Homo sapiens: one gene and its partner. The protein of the gene in region 1 purifies or fractionates together with the protein of each later gene. This does not show direct contact. Each region holds a gene or a part of one and is shown in the gene's direction. Other genes may lie near its edges.

What was found.
Region 2: the proteins of ARL5B (region 1) and SRPRB purify together in Homo sapiens (affinity purification with mass spectrometry; 3 studies listed by BioGRID and IntAct, with this or other methods). This does not show direct contact.

Annotation. Positions count from the first base shown.
Region 1 is NC_000010.11:18,665,173-18,682,477, forward strand, and holds the end of ARL5B (ADP-ribosylation factor-like protein 5B), read left to right. Parts: intron 1-1,402; coding exon 1,403-1,463; intron 1,464-3,357; coding exon 3,358-3,505; intron 3,506-7,449; coding exon 7,450-7,533; intron 7,534-8,811; coding exon 8,812-8,963; intron 8,964-9,995; coding exon 9,996-10,044; 3' UTR 10,045-16,467; downstream 16,468-17,305.
Region 2 is NC_000003.12:133,801,486-133,810,301, forward strand, and holds the start of SRPRB (signal recognition particle receptor subunit beta), read left to right. Parts: upstream 1-4,329; 5' UTR 4,330-4,363; coding exon 4,364-4,517; intron 4,518-5,123; coding exon 5,124-5,218; intron 5,219-6,260; coding exon 6,261-6,338; intron 6,339-8,816. UniProt on the Homo sapiens protein: Component of the signal recognition particle (SRP) complex receptor (SR). Ensures, in conjunction with the SRP complex, the correct targeting of the nascent secretory proteins to the endoplasmic reticulum membrane system.

The DNA of each region.
Region 1 (17,305 bases):
AGCTTCATTAGAGGACATGTAGCCAAGCTTGGTGGTGTGCACCTGTGGTCCCAGCTATTCAGGAGGTTCAGGTAGGAGGATCACTTGAGCCTGGGAGGTCGAGGCTGCAGTGATCATGCCCCTGCACTCCAGCCTGGGCAACAAAGCAAGACCCTGTCTCAAATAAATAAGGAGAATTATAGTGAGTTATACTAAGCAGGCAAGTTTTGTTTTGTTTTACAAAGCAGCTTCTACCATAGTGAAAATAGCCCTTCCAGAGGACCGTGTCTGTTTATCCTGCACTGTAATAGGCTGTATCTAGAGTGTGTAGGTCATTGGAAGACCTGCACATCTCAAGAACTTAAATTTTCTTGGTCCCTCTTTTTTTGGCTGATGAAGTTTAGAACTTCAGAGTAGGAATATGAGCTGATAGTTGATTATATGACCAGAATGTTGACATTCACCAGAGGTCATCAAGAAGAGCGGGATTCTGATATGAGATGTGCCCAATCGTTGCCTACAAATCAACTGTGTTGTGATTCTGTGGAAACTTCCCTACTTACCCTGTTGATGTTAACTTGTAACTTTTTAAGCATTCTTCTGCCTTGGAGAAGGGGATCTTTAGTATACTTGGCATAAGTGAAAATCTAGGAAAGATGGTATCTGGGTTGTTTTCTGTATTCAAAGGACATTGCAGAATATATACCACTTAACGGAATAATTAGATGAGCTTTAGCAACTACTTATTAAAAGAGGTGAATATTTAGTGCATGGCACCCAAAGGAGGAAAGAACTGAAGAGATTTTCATTGTACAAAGAGCAGAAACAGAATCTGCTCAAAAGAACTGTAGAAGCCGGTTGAAAAAATGTTAAACAATGAGTAATTGTGTAAAAACTTGAGAGTATATGTTTGTCTTTGTGACACATGAAACGTTTCAATTTTAAGCTTACATGGGATTTTTAAGTGAGAGGAAGAAACAGATCCTGGTATACATAGGTGGGGAAACTTACAGATATGAAAACATTTTGATAAAAAGCTAACTTGATTGGTACAGAGCTAAAAAGGTGTGTAAAACAGGCTTTTTAAAAAACTTACATTTAGGTTATAATTTTTGCCTAGATTAATATTTGGGTCTCCTCTCCCCTAGATGCAATATAAGTGACCAACTTTGCTGGTGTTTCCTGCCTACCCATCTCCCACATTCTTTTACATGAGAACTAGACAGAGAATCAATGATAATTGATTTTGTTACTTAACCTAGGTAGCCTTAACATCATAACATTTCTTTCTGCATTTTAAGTCTAGTGATAGATATTCAGTGAATGATTCTCATTAATGAGCTAACTAATAATCATTGTTGAAAGCATGTAATTGCAGTAATGCAGTAGTGTTAAATGTTTATGATTTGCTTTCTTTTTGTAGAACACAAAGTAATTATAGTGGGACTGGATAATGCAGGGAAAACCACCATTCTTTACCAATTGTAAGTATGGGTGTTTATTAAACAGTTTTCACTAGTTATTGAAACTAATGTGTTTACAATTAATAAGAGATGCATTATAATAATGACGGAAAAACTTAAATATATGTTTTTTGTTTTTTGTTTTTTTAATTTTACCGAACACAATCTATAGAAAAGTGAGTGAAATAAACATTTGCTAAACCCTTCACAAACACTTATTGTTTTCTGCCCTCGAAAGAAAGAAATTAATATTAAATAAATAAAGCGCATATTAGAAGTGCTGGGGTGAGGTGATAAAGTGGATTTCACTTAGTTCTTACCCCACTTGGGTTTATGTAAATAAATTGATAGCTCTAGGAAGCCATTGCTACCCTCCTGACTAATAGCTTTGGAATTTTTTAACATAGCCAGACTTGTCAAAAGAAATGTGATCACTCCTGAAAATATTGCTGTAGTAGCTTGCAAGAGGGAGAGTCTTGAGACTTTCAGAGAAATCTGTTAATACCTTAGGAAATTTTCACAGCTCATCATTCCACTTGTCAGAGTACCTTCCATTATCCTTTCAATGCCAATGAAATGATAGTATTAAGCAGTAGAAGTGGATCTACCAGGCACTTTAACAAAATAGTTCTACAGTTCTTTGCCCCATTGTGTGGCTCTTACCTCTTCCCACTCATGTTGCATTAGAAGACAGCCATCAGCTCACCAGAAGTACTTCATTAGCCAGTGATTAACGCATTTTTCAGCTACTTTGCTAAAAAGCTACTGACTTAAAGTTTGTTGTTTCAGAGTTGAACAACTACTTGTTTCTCTTGAAAACATTTTCATTCATTGGTGATTATGTGTTTAAATATGAATTAGCTTTTAAACATCACATATAAACATTTCAGAAACCTGTCATCTTTGTTGAAATAATTTTACACATGGCTTCAAAAATATACATAAAACCCAAGAGAATTGCAAGCCTCCTCCAACACAGTAGTGACATGTTACTGGCAAGGGCATATTTGTTGAATTAATTGATTAATGTAGCTTTACCAATGATTATGATAATACGAGGGGTATGAGCATCAGTATTCTAAATATATATATATATATATACACACACACACAAACACACACACACACATATTTGAGACAGAGTTTTGCTCTGTTTCTAAGGGTGGAGTGCAATGGCGTGATCTCCACCTCCCAGGTTCAGGCGGTTCTCCTGCCTCAGCTTCCAGAGTAGCTGGGATTACAAGCGCCCACCACCACGCCCTGCAAATTTTTGTATTTTTAGTAGAGACGAGGCTTCACCATGTTGGTCAGGATGGTCTCAAGTTCTTGACCTCAGGTGATCCACCCAAAGTGCTAGAATTATAGGTGTGAGCCACCACACCTGGCCTTCTAAATATATCTATAGTTAATTTAAATTTTTACTTGCCCATGGTCATCTTTTTAGGACTACTTTAGATTAATATGCCTGAATTAATTTTTGTGACTAAGTCTCAATTTAGACAGTCTTCAAAATTATAGATAGCCTGCTATCCAATATTTGCTATTTTGCAATCACCTAGAAACTTGCTTTTCAGGATGGCATGGGACATTGGGTCTTATCTAACTGATAACAGGGCATGGTGGTATTGGAATTTTTGGCCACAGAAATGCAAATTCACACCACACTGTTTCCTTTCTTTTCCATCAAGCTTGCAATTCCTTCCGTTAAAAAAAAAAACAAACAAGAAACAAGTCTTTCTTCTGGAGTTGTTATCTAGATATTGATTTGCGCAAGTGTTCTCCAGGTTTATAATTTTCATGCTAATGATCACCATCATTGGTGCAGAAGGTTGATTGATCTTAAAAATACAGAGATAAAAGTTGCTTCAGATTCTCAAGATTTACAAGAGCTTTTACGGTGTCTGTTTTTCAACAGCTTAATGAATGAAGTGGTTCATACTTCTCCAACCATAGGAAGCAATGTTGAAGAAATAGTTGTGAAGAACACTCATTTTCTTATGTGGGATATTGGTGGTCAGGAGTCTCTGCGATCATCCTGGAACACATATTACTCAAATACAGAGGTATGCTAAGATGAATTTTGAATTTTAATCCAAAGGTCCCTAGAGTAAACATAGAAAGTAATTAGGCTGCACCTGGGCGTATTGACAGTTGCCTTTTTTTTTTTTTTTTTTAAGACGGAGTCTTGCTCTGTCGCCAGGCTAGAGTGCAGTGGAGTGATCTTGGCTCGCTGCAAGCTCCGCCTGCTGAGTTCAAGCCATTCTCCTGCCTCAGCCTCCCAAATAGCAGGAATTACAGGCGAGTGCCACCACACCCGGCTAATTTTTGTATGTTTAGTAGAGACCGGGGTTTCACCATATTGATCAGGTTGGTCTTGAATTCGGGACCTCGTGATCCACCCTCCTTGGCCTCCCAAAGTGCTGGGATTACAGGCTTGAGCCACCGTGGCCGGCCTTTTAATAAGATCCTTTTTTGTAGGGAATTTGGGTTTCCTTTTTTTAAAAAATAAATAAATAAAAATTTCATAAATGAGACTTAAGAATTTGGGTTTTCGAATAAAAGAAAAGGCAAATAGAAAGATTGTTTGGAGCTATTATTACTTGAGTGCTTACTGTTTGGCCAGGTTCTCTCCATTCATCTTCACAAGATTTTCATGTCTCCAGGGTTGGAGAGATCTGACACGTGGAGATATTATGTAGGTTTCCCCAAGATCTCACAACTTTCTAAGAGACCCTGACCGGTGGAGGAATAAAATATTTTATTAATTTAAAAATTTTTTATACCATGAACATTCAAAATGTTGGTAGATTTTTTTTTAATTAGAAAAAAGTAGATTTGCAAATCATCTCTCAAAGTTCTCTGCCACTTATGAGTTCAGAGCTAACTTGGGGAACAAACCTGGATATATTCATGTTCTATTTCTGCTTTTATTTCTTATTAGAGGCAGATTTTTTTAAAAGCCATTCAATGTAGTTTAGAGAGATTTATCCTTGATAGTATGATTTCACAATTGCATCCATTTAATTGTTCTTTGCAAAGAAGTACACCTAACCAATTATTTTTTTCTAAAATGAAACCTTTTAAAAATTGGAGTTGGGCCAGACACGGTGGCTCACGCCTGTAATCCCAGCACTTTGGGAGGCCGAGGCGGGTGGATCATGAGGTCAGGAGATTGAGGCCATCCTGGCTAACACAGGTGAAACCCCGTCTCTACTAAAAATACAAAAAACTAGCCGGGCGTGGTGGGGCAGACTTGTAGTCCCCAGCTACTCAGGAGGCTGAGGCAGGAGAATCGCTTGAACCCAGGAGGCAGAGTTTGCAGTGAGCCGAGGTGGCACCACTGCACTCCAGCCTGGGTGACAAAACGAGACTCTTATCTCAAAAAAAAAAAAAAAAAAAATTGGAGTTGGAAGGGAAGAGGTAGAAAAGGATATAATATGAATAATTTTTGGTGAACAAAGTTGCCTCTTTAAAAAACATGTATTGTTCTAGATTTATATTATAATAGCATGTGTGTATGTGTGTATATATTCCAATGCAACGTGTAAGTAAACAAAGATGGCGTATCATAGATAATCAGAACTTGTGGTAGCACTGAATTATTTTATTGGGTATGCAGAAGCTGTAAGCAAATAATATAGTTAAAGGGTAGCTTATACATTTATACAGTAAAATAATGTTCTGAAACTAGAATAAGTTAGAAAGTAAGGGAAGGGCCAGGCGCAGTGGCTCACTTCTGTAATCCCAGCACTTTGGTAGGCCGAGGTGGGCAGATTGCTTGAGGCCAGGAGTTCAAGACCAGCATGGCCAACATGGCAAAACCCCATCTCTACTAAAAATACAAAAATTAGCCAGGCATGGTGGCATGTGCCTGTAGTCCCAGCTACTCCAGAGGCTGAGGCATGAGAATCGCTTGAACCTGGGAGGCGGAGGTGGCAGTGAGCTGAGATAGCACCACTGCACTCCAGCCTGGGTGGCAGAGTCTCGCTCTCTCTCAAAAAAAAAGAAAAGAAAGTAAGGGACAAATGACATTGTAGCATATGATTAATTTAAACATCAGAGCTGTTAGTAGTTTTAAGCTCACAGTTAACTCCAGCTGTGAAAAGGGCAGTTATCATTGATGAATAGGTCAAAGTTGATTCTAGTGAATCCATATGTACTTAAAGTGTGTCGAAAGGGTAGTTCTTGAAGTGACTGAAACTCTGGAGGACTTAGCATGGGTCCAGAAAGAGATATCCATTACTGATGCCATTTGCATGAAACGTTCTTTTAATAAGTGATCTCTACAAGAATATCAAAATTACTACAAAGAACAGTGGCGCCTGTCACTTTGCATTTTGAAAATTCTTCACGTGGAAGAGTCCCCCAAAAGCGGTAGTATGTCCATTATAATACAAGAAGTTACAGGTATTAAGTAATTATTGACACCTTCCTCTCATTAACTCACAGTTGTTTCCCATATTCTGTTGATTCCTCCTTTGCCACGCGACATTCTTTCCGTTTATTCCCTTCTAAGCCCAACTCAGTTTATATTCAGATTAGTTGTCTGTTTCCCTAATTTTATTTATTTTTGTTTTTTATTTATTTATTTTTTTGAGATGGAGTCTCAGTCTGTCACCCAGGCTGGAGAGCAGTGCAGCCTCCGCCTCCCAGGTTCAAAGGATTCTCCTCCCTCAGCCTCCGAAGTAGCAGGGACTACAGTACACACCACCACACCTGGCTGATTTTTGTGTTTTTAATAGAGACAGGGTTTCACCATGTTGGCCAGGTTGGTCTTGAACTGTCCTCAAGTGATATGCCCACCTCGGCCTACCAAAGTGCTGGGATTACAGGTGTGAGCCACTGCACCTAGCCTGTTTCCCTAATTTTAAAGTCATCTCTGTAATCTAATTCTACCCTTCATGTCTCAGTTTATTTTGCATCTATCTCCTGCTGTAATAACATCATTTCATCTCATTTCTTAACTTTTTATTCTGTATACAGTGTTCAGCTTAAGGGTGCTTTTTCGCTGTATCATCTCCTCCATCTCCTCCTCCTCCTCCCCCTCACCCACCCCCCACATTTTTTAAAAAATGAGTTAGGGCCTCTCTCTCACCCAGGCTGGAGTGTAGTTGCATGATTCTCAGTACAGCCTCAACTTCCTAGGCTCAAAGCAGTCCTCCCACCTTAGCCTCCCAAGTAGGTGGGACTATGTGCATGGCTAATTTTTATTTTTTGTAGAGAGACAGGTTCTCACTATGTTGCCCAAGCTAGTCTCAAACTCCTGGGCTCAAGCAGTCATCCCACCTCACCTCCCAGAGTGCTGGGATTATATGTGTGTGAGCCACAATGCCTGGCCTATATCTTCTTATTTTTTAATATGCAAACTCCCTTTTTTCATGTATAGCTTTACCAACAGATTTCTCCTCTTTTTTCTGGTGTCTTGCCTTTATTTAATTTCACCTGAATCTCCAGTATATAATGCCTAAGTATATATGTTTCAATCTGGAGCATTTATGGTGGATACTGTTTTATAAAATTGTCTTATTTTTAAAATGCATTTATCTTTTTCTTTCAAACTAGCTTTTCTTTCTAAGAGTTAGGAGATTGTGGTATACACAAGTAAGCAATTATTGACTGTTTAGATGAATGATAATGGAGTACTTTGAAGTTTTAGTGAAAAATATTATTGAAATTAGTGTAAGTTTCTTTTCAAAAATTGCTTTTTACTACCAGCATTTGAAAACAAATCATAGTATTATGTATTCGGGCATCACTTAAAATAAAACAAGTGGGGCACAGTTTTTATTTGTTGAAGCTATGAGTTATTTTCTTACTGTTAACATTTGGATTTTACTGCTTGATGTGGTTCAGTATTATAAAAGCTGTTTATGGTGAAAAAGCAGTAGATGTTTTATAGTAATGATGATGCCATGTAGAGAAAGTACTTAGATTACTTGAGTAGTTTTACAGAAAACTTTTCAGCATCCCATTCAATTTTCTGTCTTTCCTTTTAATTTTCTTCTAGTTCATCATTCTTGTTGTTGATAGCATTGACAGGGAACGACTAGCTATTACAAAAGAAGAATTATACAGAATGTTGGCTCATGAGGTAAATTTTTAAAGTAAATCTTTAAAAAACAGTGTAGTAAAGTATCTGTACGTTGCCTTTGCTTTTTTGCAAAGATTAATGTGATATGATGTTGGCTATTTTATGATTAACACAACTTTATGTACTAAACTGATGAAAGTCTTGAGGTAAAAAAAAATGTTCATTACTTTTTCAAACTTAAAAAACCCTAACACATTAATTTGTAGATTACTACTGTTATTGTAAAAATTTTTCAAAGCTAAAGTTACTTAAGCATGCCTTTAAAAGTCTGATAAATTGAGATAAGCAAAAGGAAAACTTAAGGGTCTTTTCCCCAAAAGTTTCAATAACTGAAAGGTTTTTTTTTTGTTTTTTGTTTTTGTTTTTGTTTTTTTTGAGACGGAGTCTTGCTCTGTTGCCCAGGCTGGAGTACCGTGGCGCGATCTTGGCTCACTGCAACCTCCGCCTCCTGGGTTCAAGCAGTTCTCTGCCTCAGCCTCCCGAGTAGCTGGGATTACAGGAACCCGCCACCACGCCTGGTTAATTTTTGTATTTTTAGTAGAGACAGGATTTCACCATCTTCGCCAGCCTGGCCTTGAATTCCTGATGTCGTTATCCGCCTGCCTCAGCCTCCCAAAGTGCTGGGATTACAGGTGTGAGCCACTGTGCCTGGCCTGTATTCCATGTTTTTCAAACTTATACTATATAATATATATCTTTCTGAATCTTGCTCTTTTTGTACAACATTGTGACTTATCCATGATAATATATTCTGATTATCCATCTTAATATGTACTGCTTTCGTTCATTCCTTTTAACAACTGTATAGTTTTCCACAGTATGAGTATATCACAATCTATTCTTCTAATGTTTTCATAGTATAAACAATGCTGAAATGAATATTAACCAATGACCTTATGTTATACAAAGACTAGTAAGTAATAAGTATTGCCCAGCTCCCACCACCAGTACTCTTAAGTTTTGGATAAACTCTAGTATTTGGCAACATACTACCATATTTGCCTATTAGAATATTAATTATGTATTTTTGAGTCAGTATTTAAAATTCAGGTGTATTTTTTTTTTTCAGTTTGACCAGTTCGACTCAAAAATAAAAAATAATTATTTAATATTAATCTGTTGGAATGAATAATGAAATTACGGGTATTTGAGATTATTTTTATGTTAAATACTAGTGCCCGATTATGTTAAAGTAGAAGCACTTCATTATAACTGTTCAGCTGGGTAAATTTAAATTGTGGTATTTCACATATTAGAAATATTTTGTCTTGATTGCAGGATTTACGGAAGGCTGCAGTCCTTATCTTTGCAAATAAACAGGATATGAAAGGGTGTATGACAGCAGCTGAAATCTCGAAATACCTCACCCTTAGTTCAATTAAGGATCATCCATGGCACATTCAATCCTGCTGTGCTCTCACAGGAGAAGGGTAAGTTCATCCGTCTGAGGGGAGGTATGACTTCTTTCAAATTTCTTCCAACTTTTTAGGCCAACTTGTTTTCTTCATGGGTCCTGTTCCTTTTCTGTTTGTTTGTTCTTAATTAAAGGTGACTTTTATAATGTGTCTCAGGCTTACAACCTAGAAATAATTCTAGTAAAATCACTGGCAACTTAAAAACTTTTAATGTAAATATAATGTTTTACCAAAAAGCAATAAACTATTGAATTGAGTTTTCATAATCCAAATTTTTTTCTTTGTTGCCTTTATCATATACTGAGAAAAAAACTGTAATGTCACCTTTCTTTTAAAAAGGAAGCTTGAAAGAAATTTCACATTTTCTGCAAGGACTTAAACCTGAGCTCTCAGCTTTCTGCAAGAGTATGTCTTCTTTATTATTAGGAGGTCTTTTGGGAGGCATATTTCCAGACAATAAACAGTTGAGACAAATGCCACATGGTCTATTCTTCCATCTCTAACAATTTGAATGTGGGTATTAGGCCAAGAAGAACCGAATGTTATTTAAGTATTATCCTGTTTATATCAGAGAACTTATCCTCAAATCAACCTCACCTTCTTAGTTTTTCTCTTAGTATTTATCAGAAATAGCTTGCAGTAATAGCTGTGTGTAGGCCTTTTTGACTCATACTTTTAAGACTGAGTCTAAGTATTCCATTCTTTAGAATTGAGGAGGATAAGGTGAAGTTGCTATTGACTTTCTCCAGTCGTTAAGTTTCAGTTAATTTTAAAAGGCGGGGAGTATTTGCACTCTTCATGGCAAAACTGGCAAAGTTGTATCTTCAAGATGAGACTGAAGCAATTTCCCACAAACTGATTAAGAATATTTAAGAGAACATTCCATTTAAAAATTTCACTTATTATAGTGTGACTTGAATGTTGACACTGATGTATATAAATAATGATTGTGCTACCAGCCTTTGGTTAAGACCTAAAAATAATAAGTACGCTTTCAGTTTTTAAGTATAAGGTTTTTAATTAAAAATACTTCTATCTTTTGTTTAGGTTATGCCAAGGTCTAGAGTGGATGACCTCCCGGATTGGTGTGAGATAACTTTTTTGCTTGAAAGAGACTGCTCTATTTATTCTGTGACATGAACATTTTTTCCTAGTACCTTTGGCTGCTAAGGCAGCAGCATGTTTAATTTATAACAACACAAACCTCTGAGAGCAACACTTGAATCAAGTGCAGCTGAACTGGAACATAAAAGATTTTTTCTTAACTTTTTTTTTTTAACACACTAATCTTCAGTTGGATGAATGTAATGTATAACTATGTTTTCAGCAACAATTCTTCTGTTTATTCTAATTAATCAGTGACTGCCTTGTAAGAAATGTTTGTCATATGCGTGATGTCTTCTGAAATATTCTTATAACCTTAATGACCAATTGCTTTCAATTCTTGACCAGCACTCCCTCCCAACCAGAGAATTACTGGTTTGATAGAGTAGTCTTGGAAACCATCAGGTACTGCCTGCAGACTTCTCCAGCACTAAATATATTTGTTCCCTCTATAAACCATTCATCTTTCGGACAGAACTTACTGTAAAGAAAGAAATCTGCCTAGAGGATATATGTAAGGAAGATTCCACATCATGAGTACTTGCCTTTTAACTTTCCCCCACATTACTGTTGAGTCATGGAATAATGTTTAAGTTGTTATTTGCATGGAAATTAAGTAGGCTGTTTATTTATCTAAAGGAATCAAGTCCACTCTTCTGCCTGCAACATTTGTTCAAAAACTAACCAAGGTAAAATATTTATTTGAAAGCCCAACTTTGATGTTAAATATTCTTGAATAAATCTGTTATTTTAAGAATATCACATTATTCAATGCATATAAAACTATCAGAAGTTAGTAAATCATACCAGCACTAAAAATAAGACAATTGGAATATATTTTAGCATCAGTTTACAAACAACTTTATTATCAACAGAAATTTTAGCTCTTTTCTTTGCAAGATATATCACAGCTGCTTTGGGCAGTAGCTGAAGCCGAAGTATGAACAGTCCATTTTGTTTCTTAAAATTTGAAGTCGTGTCTGTCATAGCATTTTTACTACCAGCAGTATGTTACTTAAAAAACTACATGGCTTTCCTTGAATTTATTTGACGGTATTATGTAATAGACTTGAAACAATTGCCATCTTTGTAGTTATGCCTTGGGTTCTAAAATGTTATAGGAAACTGCTGAATTGAATCCTAGCTTTTAGAATATTAATAGGAGACTCAAAGTTAATATTCTTAACAACTTAAAATTAAAAAAAGTCATAATCTATCAAAAGTTTATTTATTGGATGGCATTAAAACATTTTTGAGGCAGTTGTCTAATATGAACAATAATCTAAACAATATATTCCTTAAATTAAGAGGAAAGACAAGTGTCGTATTTCGATCCTGTTTATTCAAATGTGTGATTTTGCTGAAATGAAAGGGATAAAATGAATACTTAGAGAATAATACTTCATTTTTGCAGTACTTTTTAATTTTGATAAAAAAGATACAAAGTTCATAATATCAAAATATGTGTTCAAAATTGGTATTTTAATTTTAATATTTTTGTAAGTTGATTTAAATTTTGCTCTTTTTTCAGGTGTGCTTGGTTTATTATATTTAGTCAAGTTAATTTAGTCGAATGTGGTAACATTTTTCTGATTTATCTTTAGTTGGAGCACACCCTTGAACTGAACAGTGGCCAAAGGAAAGCTTTCTGGGCTTTGGAAAGTAGTTGTTTAACTTTGTTTTAAGCCGTTTTCTTAGTGATTCTGTATCAAGTAGAGGATAAGTGTAGTTTAACTTAGTTTTTAATATAACCCATAATCAAGAACATGAGCGAAAAGCAGACATAAATCGATATGGATGGTTTGTGGTGTGTGTGGGATGTGGGGGAATTAAGAAAATGCCATTTACCTAAGCACAGTTTGCCTGAATTTCTGCTTGGTTGTGTTGTTTACCGTAAGTACTGAGGGTAGTTTCCCTAAGTCTGTCCTGAGAAAAAGCATACTTAGTACTCCTGTATTTGTTCTTATGAAATGACTATCTGCCTTCTTGTATCTAGTAAGATTGGCTGGCTCAATTTTCTTCTGTCAAATTATATGGTTATTTTTTATATTACCACATCAGCATTATATTAAAAGTGTTTTTAATAGTTGATTGTATTTTGCCAACTACTAGTATAGACTCAAATTTGCTATTTAATTTTTAAAATACAATTTATTTTGTAAATCCTTTAAAAAATATTTGGTTAGTTTTGGATTAGAAATGATTTATGTTAGCCATGTGTTGAAGATGAAATTGGCATCAGTGTAGACGGTGCTGATTGGGAAAAGTTCATGATTAGGAAATTCATGTAAGACTTTTTAAGAGTATTTTTTAGGTTTTCACTCAATCTTTCCTGTCACAGTAACGTGAAAACTGATTATTCTTTACTCCAAGAGAATGTTTTAACCCAAGCAAGTATCTAATACTAGAGCATTGGTTCTGACATTCATTGTAAATCAGTGAACTGTAAGATACTGTCTAAAAAATGTACATTTGTAATTAGTGCCTTTATTCATATTTTGAAATAAGTTCTTAGTTTTATATTATACCTGTTCTTTAGAAGTCATGTTAGCAGCTAATTATTTCAGTGATGAAATAATTTGTGTTTTATATCCCCCTTCACCTCCATGTATTGGTTAGCACAGTTTATAGTAAGTGAAAAGCAAGGGACCCACCTACATTACCTTCAGGAGACTGTTCTACCTTTTAATTTGAAAACAAGGAAATTAAATTTTAACAGAAATCTTTTAAGTATGTTATAACCAAAGTGTTCAATTATCCTTGCAAGTTCAAATACAGCATTTTTCTTAATTTTGAGCGTGTCATGTCCTTCATCTTTAAACCCATCATTCTTATTGAAGCCCATTTGAGAACTCTTAGAATTAATAGAACCTTTTATAAGGGAATATATGGAATATTTTTTATTGTTAATGTAACTTAATTCCTTAAAACCTGGAATATTAATATATATAATCTATTAAAAGCTGAAGATTAAATATGTAATTTTTGCTTTTAGTTTCTTGTGTTAGTATGCTTAAAGGTATCAATACTTTTATTCTATATTCATTAGAAGAAAGGTAATAAATTTAAGTTTCATTGCTGAAAAATTTTAAATGAGTGCCACCCCATAGCCATAGTCATTTTGATTAAGCATAATTTAACTTTCATTATAGCATAAAGAGAAAATAATTATTTTAGTATGGAAACAGTGATAGGCAGTGCTGTAAACAATATTCTCTGAAAAGTTGTGGGGGTCACAAAGAAAATTTTAAAGAATATAGAAGCTTTTTTAAAAAATCTTTTTAGTGTAGTTTCTTAGAACAAATTATAAACATAATCATTCTGAATAATCAATTTTTATTTAGTCCTTAACTATGTAAAACCGTATCAGTAGAAAAATGTGCTGGTGTCGTGTCTAAAGATGGATAAATTTCTTTGGAATTTATCTTTGGAGACCAACTTTATGAGGCAGACTTTTTGTCTACAGCTTTGGAACCAAAAAAACTTCACTCTAATTCAGTCCTAAAGGCTATTTTACATTTTGCCGGGGTAAAGTGACTTCAAGATACAGCATGGTGTCTTGTATCTAGTAGAATATTGTGCTAGCCATCTAAAAAAGTGGATTTGAGCCTTAATTTGGCCGTTTCTCAATTGTCTAGTTGACCTTAGACAATTAGTGTCCATGGCTTTCCTTTTGTTTTTCCCATACTGAGGAACTTAAACTACAGCTCTAAAATGTCTTTTGGTTTTAAAATTCTGAATGCTTATATACTACTATTAAAAATTAAAAATCCCTCAAATAGTAGGGCAATACAGGTAATATGAAATTAAATGTATTTTTATCCATTATTTGATTCCCACCTGTTATTTTATTTAGAATACGAATACAACCAAGTAGGGAAAAACGTATCAGTAACTGCTATTCAACTTAAATTCAGCGAATTAATAGCTGAATAGAAATAGCTAATGACAATGCAAAAGAGAAAACAAGCCATATTGCTAAGAAAAGGATAGTAAGCTGCTTAGAAAGAACCAGCCTGTGTTGGAAATAATTCTCTTCTAGATAATTTACCTTATTTTCTTGGCTTGTACTAATTGAATGGAAGTGGTTAATTTGTTCAGAGTTTATTGCCGTTTGATGCCACCCCAGTCTATAGTTCTGTGTGACTTTCCATATTGAAAGAGTAGGGTTAGTAGCCAGGTTGTCAGTCTTTTACAAATGTCTACATAAATGTCTACATAAATCTGAAAGTGGTTTATATTCAAGGTTAGTTTTTCAGTAGCGTCTCCTCCTTATTCATTCACTTTTACTGTGAAGACTGAAATCCAAAAGCCAGGTTCCCCAAAAAAGTATTTTTAAAAAATTTTAGGGGACCAAAATAAATAGAGGAAGACCAATATAAAAAAATATGTTCAACTATTCCATTTTAAATTTAAAGCAGAAAAAAAAATTGTGCCCCTCAGACCTAAAGGCAGCTTTAAATGTATATAGTTTGGTGAAACATTTGGGAAATATTAATTTGGAGGTTTAGAAGCATACGAAAAACAAATTCAAAGCACTTGAAAGTAAAGACAATATCATGAGGTCGAAAAAACTTCAAAAGGATATTAGGTAAGAGAAAATGTGAATGAAAGCAGTGAATTTCTGCCTCTCCTCGTATTTAGGGTACTTAAAATTACTAAAAAATACTGTCTTTTTACCATACAGCTAGATGGCCTGTATTATTCTTAATGTGGCCAAAGGAGTGAAGACTGATTAGGGTTTTAGAATTTGGAACTGTAGTCACATAAAGGCATCTTTTGCATTTCTTAAACCAGTAATCTACATTTTCTCCTGGAAATGGAGAAATATGAAATGTGCTGTGCATAGCTTTTGGAATAGAAAACAAAGTTTTAAAAGAATGGATATGTTTTCTTGCACAACTTGTAAAATTTTAATTAAAAAATTACCTCATTTTTCAATCCATAAGGTGCTTTGCTCAAGTTTGTGGGATGTTTGTACCATCCCATAAAAACCCCCTTCACCCAAACTGTATTTGAAATATGCAAAATTCATAACTAAGGGATAGCATTCCTTGGAGACTTTGTTTTGTTTTACTCTTGTTTACCAGCTGGGCCAACATGGTAGATATATGAGATTCACATATGGTTTCATTAAAGCACATAGGAAAGTGCTCAGTCAATATTTAATTAGTTTAATTAGATAAGGGAAAGGAGAAATCCTAAATTTGATGGATTCTTTTATACTGTGAATATATTTCCATCAGTGTTGGTAAGATATCAAATGACTATCAGTTGATCCCAGTCATCAGTGACTTATTTGCATATTTAAGCCCTATTCACAAGAGACCATAATCATTTTAATCTTATATTTTCCCTCAGGAAATTTAGGGACTCTGAAGCCCCTATTTTATTCTCTTGGAGTAAACTGTTGAGTGTAGTTACAAAAACTTTTATTTATGACTTAAAAAAAGTTTAGCTGCTATTTCAGTGAAAGTGTAAAATAAAACGGTCATGATTTTTTTCAATTACAGAATAGTTACAAATTTTACCATGTTCATCTATTCCACAGAGCATGTTAAAAACAACAACAACAAAAACCTAACAGCAATTACAACCTTGGTGTTGCGTTTATTCTAATCAGAGTGAATGATTATAATCACACTTTGCTATTTTAACATAAATTGGTGCTTTAGAGCATTAAAGAGGAAGCAGCAGGCCCTGTACTCAGTATTTATTATTTCTTGCCTCAGAATGCAAAACAACTTTAAAGTGTCTATATTCATATATATGTGCATTTCTTAAGATTTAAATACAAACTGTTGTTACTCCTTAAGCTTCAGGCTTTCTGCGAAAGCTCTAAGAATATCTTCATTACTATGCTTGGTCAACTGGAAGATGGTATTAATAAGGTCAGAATTAGGAATTGGATTGCTCTGTGGGTCCTCCGGTATTGTGCAGAGGAAAGAAAAATGTCTTTCACACCACAAACTGTGTGTCTGAACCCCAGCCAAACAAATGTGTTCCATTGGTCCAATATATAAGCATTAACAACAACAACAAAAAATTTAAAACAAGTAAATTAATGCATTCACATGATCACTTCTTGAAAATGGTTCAAAGCATGTTTTCCTGATGGTGGGATTGTTTAAATGACATGTTTTAAAGTTTTTAATACTTTATTAGTTATGAAGTGCTTCTTTTATATGTTAAGTTTAGGTTGCCAGTACTCATAATTTTTATTTCTGCAATTATGTTATAATGAGTTGTTTGCATGCCTACTTAACCCAAGTAAAACGATGCTGTTTGCTCTGGAATGTTCATCTTTTAGACAGGTTTTGGCTCATTTCCAATCATGGTGCAATATAGTGTAACATTCATTTGTTTTCATTCAACAGTTTTATTTTTGTCATAATAAATAATTACTTTTCCAATACGAAGTGAATCCAGTGTTTTCTTTTAAAGGTAAATCTGCTTTAAGTTATTTGCTTGCAAATAATAGAAACCCACCTATGCCAACAAAGAGAGGATAATTGGGGTGAGGTGGTGGAGGCTCACAGAACCCACGGAACAACTGGATTTGTAGAACAGACTGAGACTAGAGACTGGACCATTTAGGAGCAAGCAGGAAGTTACCTTTTTTCCTGCTCATCTGTTTCTGTCTTTCACCTGACTGGATTTCTCTGTTTCCTGATCCACATAACAGATAATGTCCCAAGTCCAGTAGCCTCCTAAATTTGTACAAGGGAGAAGTCAGATTATTGTTAGACTTTCAATTACAATTCCATATTCCCCAGGGAAATTGTTCATTAGCCTGCATTGGGTCATTTCCTCTCTCTGATCTAAACAACTGGCCAAGTGGAAGGTGCATTTACCAGAGAAGGGGAATCCCTGGCCTGGGAAGGTGATCCGGATTGGTGTGTACTCCATTGTGGGGTATAATTGGGATCATCTACCAAAGTTGTGTCCTTGTAAAAAATAAAATAAAATTGAGATCTAATAATGAGTGGGATAACATTTTCACTATGTTCATTCTTCACATTCCTCTAAAGTGGTTTTAACTCCACCGTTTTTGCTCACAGACCTCTTTGGGAATGTGATAAAAGTTGCCTACGTAGAAAAATGACTCATAATTACAGAGTTAGGAATTTTGAGTAGAAGGTTAGGAATTTCAGGTACCTAGGCTTAAGAGTTCTGCTACACACGGAACACTCAGATTTCTTCTGAAAGACACCAGAAACTAGTAAGATTTCATTCTGCCTGTTATTTTTTAA
Region 2 (8,816 bases), on another chromosome or scaffold:
AAAAAAGTCTCTTTTCTTGAACCTTTTTTCTTCCTTTCCCAACTTCACCACCACGGCAGCCCTCTTCATTCACATAGCTCTGACCAAATATCCTCAGCGAGTTAAGACAGTTACGGTTGGAACTCTCCGTGTCTGGCTCTTCCTTCTTCCCTGCATCTTTGGTCCCCAGTCAGGAGGTCTAATGGTAATATCCAGTGATTTTTCTAAAGAGGAATCAGTGGTTATATTATACAAGGGGTGTGTGCGTGTGTTTTGGGTGGTGAATACAGAGCAGCGGTTAGGACCATAAGAAATAAGAGAAATGGAATGTGGCATGACCGCTGCCAGTTCTGATATTTTTGAAATTGGTAATTTAAAATAAAGTAGTTGGTTTACTTACTTAAGCCTCACATCTTAACCGTCCTTCCTTGATCTGGAGTTCCTATCGCCTACCTTTATCAATTAAAAATGCCTTGAAAATGAATCCTACTATGTTAAAGCATACGGTTAAGTAGATAGAAGCCCAATTGCCTGGGATGAAGTCCCAAGTCTGCTCATTACTATATATCCTTGGGGAGGTTACTCAACCCTGCTTCAGTTTCCCCTCTGTAAAATTAGAAAATGAGTCAGTGTGAGAATTAAACAAATTAATACATTAGGCAGGGCGTGGTGGCTTGTGCCTGTAATCCCACCACTCTGGGGGGCTGAAGCAGGAGGATCACTTGAGCCCAGGAGCTCAAGACCAGCCCAGGCAGCAGAGAGAGACTGTGTCTCTACAAAAATAAAAATAAAAAAACTACCTGGGCATGGTGTTTGTGCCTGTAGTCCCAGCTATTTGGGAGGCTGAAGCAGGAGGATCACTTGAGCCCAGGAGTTCCAGGTTACAGTGAGCCCTATTGTCACTGCACTCCAGCCTGGGCAACAGAGTGAGACCCTGCCTGAAAAAAAAAATTAAAAGTATTTAGAATGATGCTTGGCACCAGGAAGTGCTCATTAACATTAGAAACTATCTTCATGCCCCACTGTCTTCCCCATACACCATAGTCTTGCTTCCATCCCCACACTGCCCCATCCCTTGCTTATCCCCTTGAGCTCAGACTCATTCAAAGCCTTGTCAAAGGAGCCTCTCTGCTACAGAAGATGCTACTGACCACTTATAGGACATGTCTGTTTTACTCCTGTGCCACTGACTCTTCCTTCTTAGGCTTTTTTGTGGGTTCCTTTCCTCATTCTTCATGTTCTCCATGATTTTAATGACCACTTATTTATTCCTGACTCCCAAATGAAAATCTAGTATATACTTGTGGAACTTTATTTGTGTTTACTCATCACTTGCTTGACATAAGCTTTTAGATTTCCCAGAAGCACCTAAAACTCAACATATAGAAAAGAGACAATTTTCATTCTGGCTACTCTTACGTTGGATCCACAGCCCCAAGCCCTCTCCCGTTGAGGTCCCTAATTCATTTAATGGCTTTCTCATCTTCCTAGTCACCCACACCCACCACCTAGGATGCAGCCTTGATAACATTCCTTTTACTTAATTCACAATATCCAACTAATCACATCCTACGTATTTTAACTCTCAGACATCTCTCAAATTTGTGCTCTCATTTTCATACCTATTTCTGTCTCTGTATTAGACTCTGAGCATCCTTTGCCTAAATACTGCATCTTTTGCCTAAATGCTCTCAGCTGGTCTCTCTGTCTGAAGTTTTTTTTTTCCTCTCAAGTCATAGTCCTCCATAGATCTGTCAATTATCTATGTCACCCCAAATGAAACTTCTACACTTGATCTTAGCCAAAAGGCCGAGAAGCGATCCCCAAATGAAACTTCTTATTGCATTCTGGACAAACTCTTAAGTTCCTCAACATAGCACAGAAAATCCCTTCTGGTCTGATTCCTGCCAACCTTTCTAGCTTCATCTCCTGTCACTCCTACTTAAATTACTGCTCTAATCAATTTTTATAGATTTTATAATTGATGATTTGGCATCTGTTGATCACTAGGCCAAACTAACAGCCAACATTGTTTACATTTCCCCTGTGGCCTGGCTTTTGAGGGTGTGCCTAAATCATATTGCAAATCTTCCTAATACAACCCTTAACATCTGTGTTTCGCTTCTTGCCCAATCAAAAACATCTCTATCTAGCTACTCGCTGACACATTAGTAATAAAGGAAGAGTCCCAGTTCCTTTTTTTTTTTTCCTTTTTTTGGAGGCAGGGTCTTGCTCTGTTGCCCAGGCTGGAGTGCAGTGGCATGTGATCACAGCTCACGGTAACCTGGAATTCCTGGGCTCAAGCGCTCCTGCCTCAGTCTCCCAAGTAGCTGAGACTGCAGGCATATGCCACCATGCCTGGCTAATTATTTTTTAATTAAAGAAAATGTTTTAGGCCGAGGTGGGTGGATCACGAGGTTAGGAGATCGAGACCATCCTGGCTAACATGGTGAAACCCCGTCTCTACTAAAAATACAAAAAATTAGCCGGGCATGGTGGCAGGCGCCTGTAGTCCCAGCTACTCGGGAGGCTGAGGCAGGAGAATGGCGTGAACCCGGGAGGCGGAGCTTGCAGTGAGCCGAGATCGCACCACTGCACTCCAGCCTGGGCAACAGAGCGAGACTCTGTCTCAAAAAAAAAAAAAAAAAAAAAGAAAAAAGAAAATGTTTTTTGCAGAGACAGAGTCTCACTATGTTGCCCAGGCTGGTCTTGAATTCTTGGCCTCAAGCAATCCTCCTGCCTTGGCCTCCCAAAGCGCTGGGATTAATAGCTGTGAGTCACCGGGTCCTCCCCCAGTTCCTCTCTTTTTCCTTGTCCCTGTGCATGGTGAGGTTTTGTGTGGCCCTGAGTGGTATCAAGCTAAATAACAAGCAGAGAGGGACGCTCTAAAAGAAAATAATATTTATTCTGGAATAGGCATTGCAATGGGACTACGCATGCCATAGTCAACTATGTGCATATTCAGGGGGGTGTAAAGGAAGACAAAGATTTTTAAAGAAAAAATGAGTCAGATTCCATAATTGTTTTAAGATAATTATCCTTGGCTACAAGGATCAAATGGCAAGGATGGCATCAGTACTAGGTTGGACAGGGAGTTGCTGGGTAGCCGTCCTAACAGATGTATTTTTTTGTGTGTAAGGTTGCGATGGCCTTTGTGCAAGTCTGTGGTTTTTGCAGTCTTTTGTGACAGTTTTTGTCATCAGGCATGGGTGCCTGAGAACCCTCCCTCCATGGCCTTTCACCAGCTCCATTTTTCTGATTAAAAAAAAAAATACAAGTGACTCCATTTTGATGCTGACAACTTTTTCAATGGCAATGTGGAACTGTAATAAACTTTTTTCAATCTTTCAGTGACACTGACATCTTCATGTCTCTACTCAGCCATACAATTAAATTAAATAATGTGTACATTTTAAAACAATGACAGCTGTTTAATGACAGAGACTGTGAACTGGGACCCTCTAGGCTGGCCACTTTTGGTGTTTTATTTGGGCCACAAGTTTTTGAATGCTTTCAATTACCTACAGAAAATTTCAAAAGTGGAAAATTTCCTATAAAAATCTGCCTTTATTGCTTCTCTTGAAAACTGGAAGAACCGGCCACCCAGGTCCCATAACACCTACCTGGCTGAATAGGGTCGGCCCTACTTTCAGCAGAAATACCTCCTGCAGTTTTCAACAGCCCCAGCTCTCCTGGGCGTTGATTTTCCTAGTTGCTTCCTTTAATGCAGACATTTGAGTTTGCAGCCCTAGATTGACAGTGTAGGGGCACTGAATTACTTAGGGTTCCCACATACATCGTTTCTTACACTCATTTTCTTCTGCACAGCACCTTTTTTTCCTTTAACCACTCGCAGATGCTAACTCATTCTTCAGGACTCAATTCCAATGTCCAGAAGCTTTTCTCTGAACTCATGATGGACTCCGCGTCCCATTATGTATTCCCACATCGCTCCGTACATCCATCTGTCACATCCCTTGTCACATTAAATTCAGATTAAATGTTTGTAGGATGCTTGAGTTCTTCACAAGTCTCACGTCACTTAGCGACGGTCGGGAACTCCTCAGTGGTAGTTTCGGGAGCCATTCATTCATTTTATTCATTTCATCATTCTTTCAACAGTCATAACGTAGGTGACGACGACTGACTCATCTCTTAAAAGATGTGTGTGTCCCTCGACAAATAACCTGTCTGCCCCTATCGTTCTGTAGGAGGACGGAGTCCCAGAGAACTACAACTCCCATCAAGCACTTGGGGGATCGCCGCGGCTGAGGGAGAGACTATGGCTTAGGAACCACCATTCGCGTGAGGCTCTGCTCCCCGCGCCTGCGCAGAGTGCAGGGCCACGTCGCTTTTGCTGTACCGGGGACCACGCGTCTCATCCATGGCTTCCGCGGACTCGCGCCGGGTGGCAGATGGCGGCGGTGCCGGGGGCACCTTCCAGCCCTACCTAGACACCTTGCGGCAGGAGCTGCAGCAGACGGACCCAACGCTGTTGTCAGTAGTGGTGGCGGTTCTTGCGGTGCTGCTGACGCTAGGTAAAAGGCGGCCGGTGGTCATGGCGGGTTTGGGGCGGGCAGAGGTCCGGGCTTTGGCTGCACCGCTGCAGGCCGGGGACGCGGGGCTGAGAGGGCGCCTTGAGGGCATCAGGAGGGTGAGACCCACCCAGTCTACACCCCACCCTCTCTCCTGAAGCAGCGGCAGCAGCTGGGCGTTAAGGGGGATGCCGGGCAACCCCCGGAGTTAACGTCCTGGTCCTTGGGGCGCAGATTGCTCTTCGTCATCTGCCCTGTTACGCTTGAGCGCGCTGTTCCTCGCCTTCCGCTGTTCTCACTGCAAAGACTCAGGGTCTTGACACCAACTTTCAGCCTCCCGTGTTTGCGTGCGGGCGCTGGGATACCAAGGTAGTGAGATAGCACCTGAGTCCCAGTCAGAGTAAGGACTGCAAAGAAAAGTTGACAGTTGACAGTGCCTGGCTCTCAGTGGATCCCTAACAACAGCAATAGTAACCATTATGATAAAAGTCAGTTCCAGGTGAATGAGGTGTTTCGTCACAGACTTCTGTGAATTTCCCCACCCCAGCCATGCACATATACTGATTCCCAAGGCGTAATTTTTGTTGTTTTTCTCTGTCTATTCCACAGTCTTCTGGAAGTTAATCCGGAGCAGAAGGAGCAGTCAGAGAGCTGTTCTTCTTGTTGGCCTTTGTGATTCCGGGAAAACGTTGCTCTTTGTCAGGGTAAATGATTTCATTGACACCCCTGTTAAGCTTAATAGAAAATTTTATAGATCCCAGTATTCCTGTCATCTCACGGTTTATTTTGTAAAAGAAGCTGATGCTGTTAAATTTGGAAGTTAATTCTTGACTTACTTGGGAGAACAAAAAGACTCGTAGAAACCCATAATTGAGAAATATTGGTCATTTCTCCTTTTTTTTTTCTGTTTGCCCTTGCCAGATGCTGATATTTAGTCTTTATCACATTCAAGGATTTTATTTAATTAGTTTCATTCCAGAATAGCAGAAGGCATAGAAGCTAGTGTCCTACAGTTTATAATTCCTTCGTTAACAAATTCTTAGGACAGTTTATCGAAGACACTTTTTCACAGGGTGATCCTTCTTTGACATAGTGGGCTAGTTAGGCTTCTTTTTACTAATATTTATTTTTAATACATTTAGTATTTTTAACAGTGTATTTTAATGTGGTGAATAGGAGAGGTTTTCTGCTTTTTAACTCTTCTTTTTGAGAGTATAAATTATTTCCCTTCCATTAAAGAAATACCTCCATTTTTTTTTTTTTTTTTTTTTTGAGGGAGTGTCTCACTCCAATGCCCAGGCTGGAGTGCAGTGGCGAGATCTCTGCTCATTGCAGCCTTGACCTCTGGGACTCAGATGATTCTCCCACCTCAGCCTCCGAGTAGCTGGGACTACAGGCGTGCAACACTACGCCCGGCTGATTTTTTATATTTTTTGTAGAGATGAGATTTTGCCATGTTGCCCAGGCTTCAAATCATTTTTGTTGGTTAAAAATCTTTACAGAAGCTTGGCAAATTTGGCCACTAACTGTCTTTTGAGAATAATGTTGTTTTTATTCCACTGAGGAGTAAAATATGCAATTAATTAGATTTTTTTCTACAGGTAAAAAAAATCAATATCGTCTTTTTCACCTGTCGGAAGCAGCATTCATTTACTTAACCTTACACCTGGGAGACTTAGAATAATATAACTCAATTTAGGTGTGCTATTAAAATGTTGAATATCACCCATCTTGTTTTTTTTACAGTTGTTAACAGGCCTTTATAGAGACACTCAGACGTCCATTACTGACAGCTGTGCTGTATACAGAGTCAACAATAACAGGGTAAGATGTTTGTGGAGTTTTGGAGTCTGACAGTCTTACTTTACTGTGGTGTGTCAGTTAAGGACATTTTTAGGATGAGTTCATCTGAGGATGTAAGTACCATTTGTAGCTTATTTTTATGGAGAAACATATTCTTTGTGACAAATTCTCTTGACAATCTGTACAGTAGATTTAATCATGCCCTCCTCTGCATTGTTGTACCTTAATGTACAGTAATGTTATATCACATTTTATTCTTATTTTTTGTTTCTGTGTCTTCTTTCCAACTTTACAATGAGTTCTTAAGAGTGGGCATTAAACCTTTTAAGTTTTGAATAGGTAATACATGCACATGGGACAAAAATTCAAAAGGTTAGAAAAGATATTTGGTGAAAAGTAATTTTTCCTTTCCTTTCCCCACTACCTAGTTTTCTCCTCAGAAGCAGTGACTTACTTTTTTTTGTATGTAGTCTTCCGGATGTTCTGTGCATATACAAACATGTCTGTATATCCTTTATTGTTGTTTTTTTTTAAATGCTGTTCTGCCCATTATTTTTCTCATACGGCTGATACAACTTGGGCTTTTCTTATTGTCCTACATTTGTATACATAGTACCATCTGGTTGGTTTATGAGCTGCATAGTACTCCACTCTGTTGCTATACCATAAAATTAAATTCTTACTTAATCTGGACCGTGTTAATAGACATTTAGTTTTGTTATTATAACCTTTGCTTTTACAAACAGTGCTGCAATGGATATCTTACAGAGTATATATGAGTGTATTTCAAATATAAGGAATCATGGGGCCTGGCTTGGTGGCTCACGCCTGTAATCCCAGCACTTTGGGAGACCAAGGTAGGCCGATCACTTGAGGTCAGGAGTTCAAGACCAGCCTGGCCAACATGATGAAATCCTGTCTCTACTAAAAATACAAAAATTAGCCGGGTGTGGTGGTGGGCGCCTGTAACCCAGCTACTCGGGAGGCTGAGGCATGAGAATCATTTTAACCCGGGAGGTGGAGGTGGCAGTGAGCCAAGATTGCGCCACTGCACTCCAGCCTGGGCAATAGAGCGAGACTAAGTCTCAAAAAAAAAAAAAAAATATAAGGAATCATGGGAAAGACATTTTACATACCTCTGTAACTTCAGAATGTAGACAGTGACTACCAAACCGATTGTAATGCATAAGTTTGTTTGTTTGTTTTTGAGACAGGAGTCTCACTCTGTTGCCCAGGCTGGAGTGCAGTGGCATGATCTTGGCTCACTGCAACCTCTGCCTCCCGAGTTGAAGCGATTCTCCTGCCTCAGCCTCCTGAGTAGCTGGGATTACAGGCGCCCACCACCATGCCTGGCTAATTTTTGTATTTTTAGTAGAGATGGGGTTTCACCATGTTGGCCAGGCTGGTCTTGAACTCCTGACCTCAAGTGATCCGCCCACCTCAGCTTCCCAAATTGCTGGGATTACAGGCGTGAGCCACTGCACCCAGCCATGTAATAAGTTTCGGTGAGTGAGTGGAGTGAGGGCTCGTTGGAGGATGTGGATGGATAGATGGATGAATTAGAATTGTGGTTTGAGACCTTTTCTTCTTCTCTTTGTCTTCTTTCCCCTTTCTCATGCCTCCAGAATTAAAGATTGTAAAGAAAAATAAAGGGACATGTTTTTAAATATCTTAGCGATATCTTTGTTTTTTTTTTCAATGATGACACTCTTTGTGGCCCAGACCTTTTTAAACTCCCAAGGATTCAGATTTTGAAATTCCAGGTTTGCAAGATCATCTAGTACCTGCACTAGATTTTTAACTTAGGATACTCCAGGATATGCTTTAAATCTGTACCTTCTAATATGTAGCCACTGGCCACATGTGACTGTTGAGCACCTAAACTAGGACTAGTCCAAATTGAGGCATGCTGTAAGTGTGAAGTACACACCAGATCTTGAAGACTTAGTATGGAAAAAAAGAACGTAAAGTATCATTAATAATTTCTTTTTTTATTACATTTTAAAAGATAATATTTTGGATATATTAGATTAAATAACTTAAAATTAATTTTACCAATTTCTTTTTACTTTTTTATTATGGTTACTGGAATATTTAAAATTACATATGTGGCTTCTGTTATTCTATATTTCTACTATATTTCTATTCTATCAATATTTCTACTGAATATATAGAGCATTTTTCCCTTCCCTCTTCACTCTTTCTCCTACCCCCTTACGTTTTCGATCTAATCTCTTTAGATAGTAATATACCTAGTAATGTATCTTCCAAATTGCTTAGGGTGTGTGGTATAGTGCTGCTTTTGAAATGGAGCAGTTAAGTCCCAACCTGGGATCTCCAGACTCTTAACAGTACTTAAAAAAAAAAGAGAGGGACTAATAAAAAACATATTTGTCTATAAAGAAATGCACAGGCTATGTGAAAGGTAAGGTCATAATAAACCCAGCTGGAATTGTGTTAAATCTGTGCAGGATACTGATTGCCTGCTTCTGAACTGTG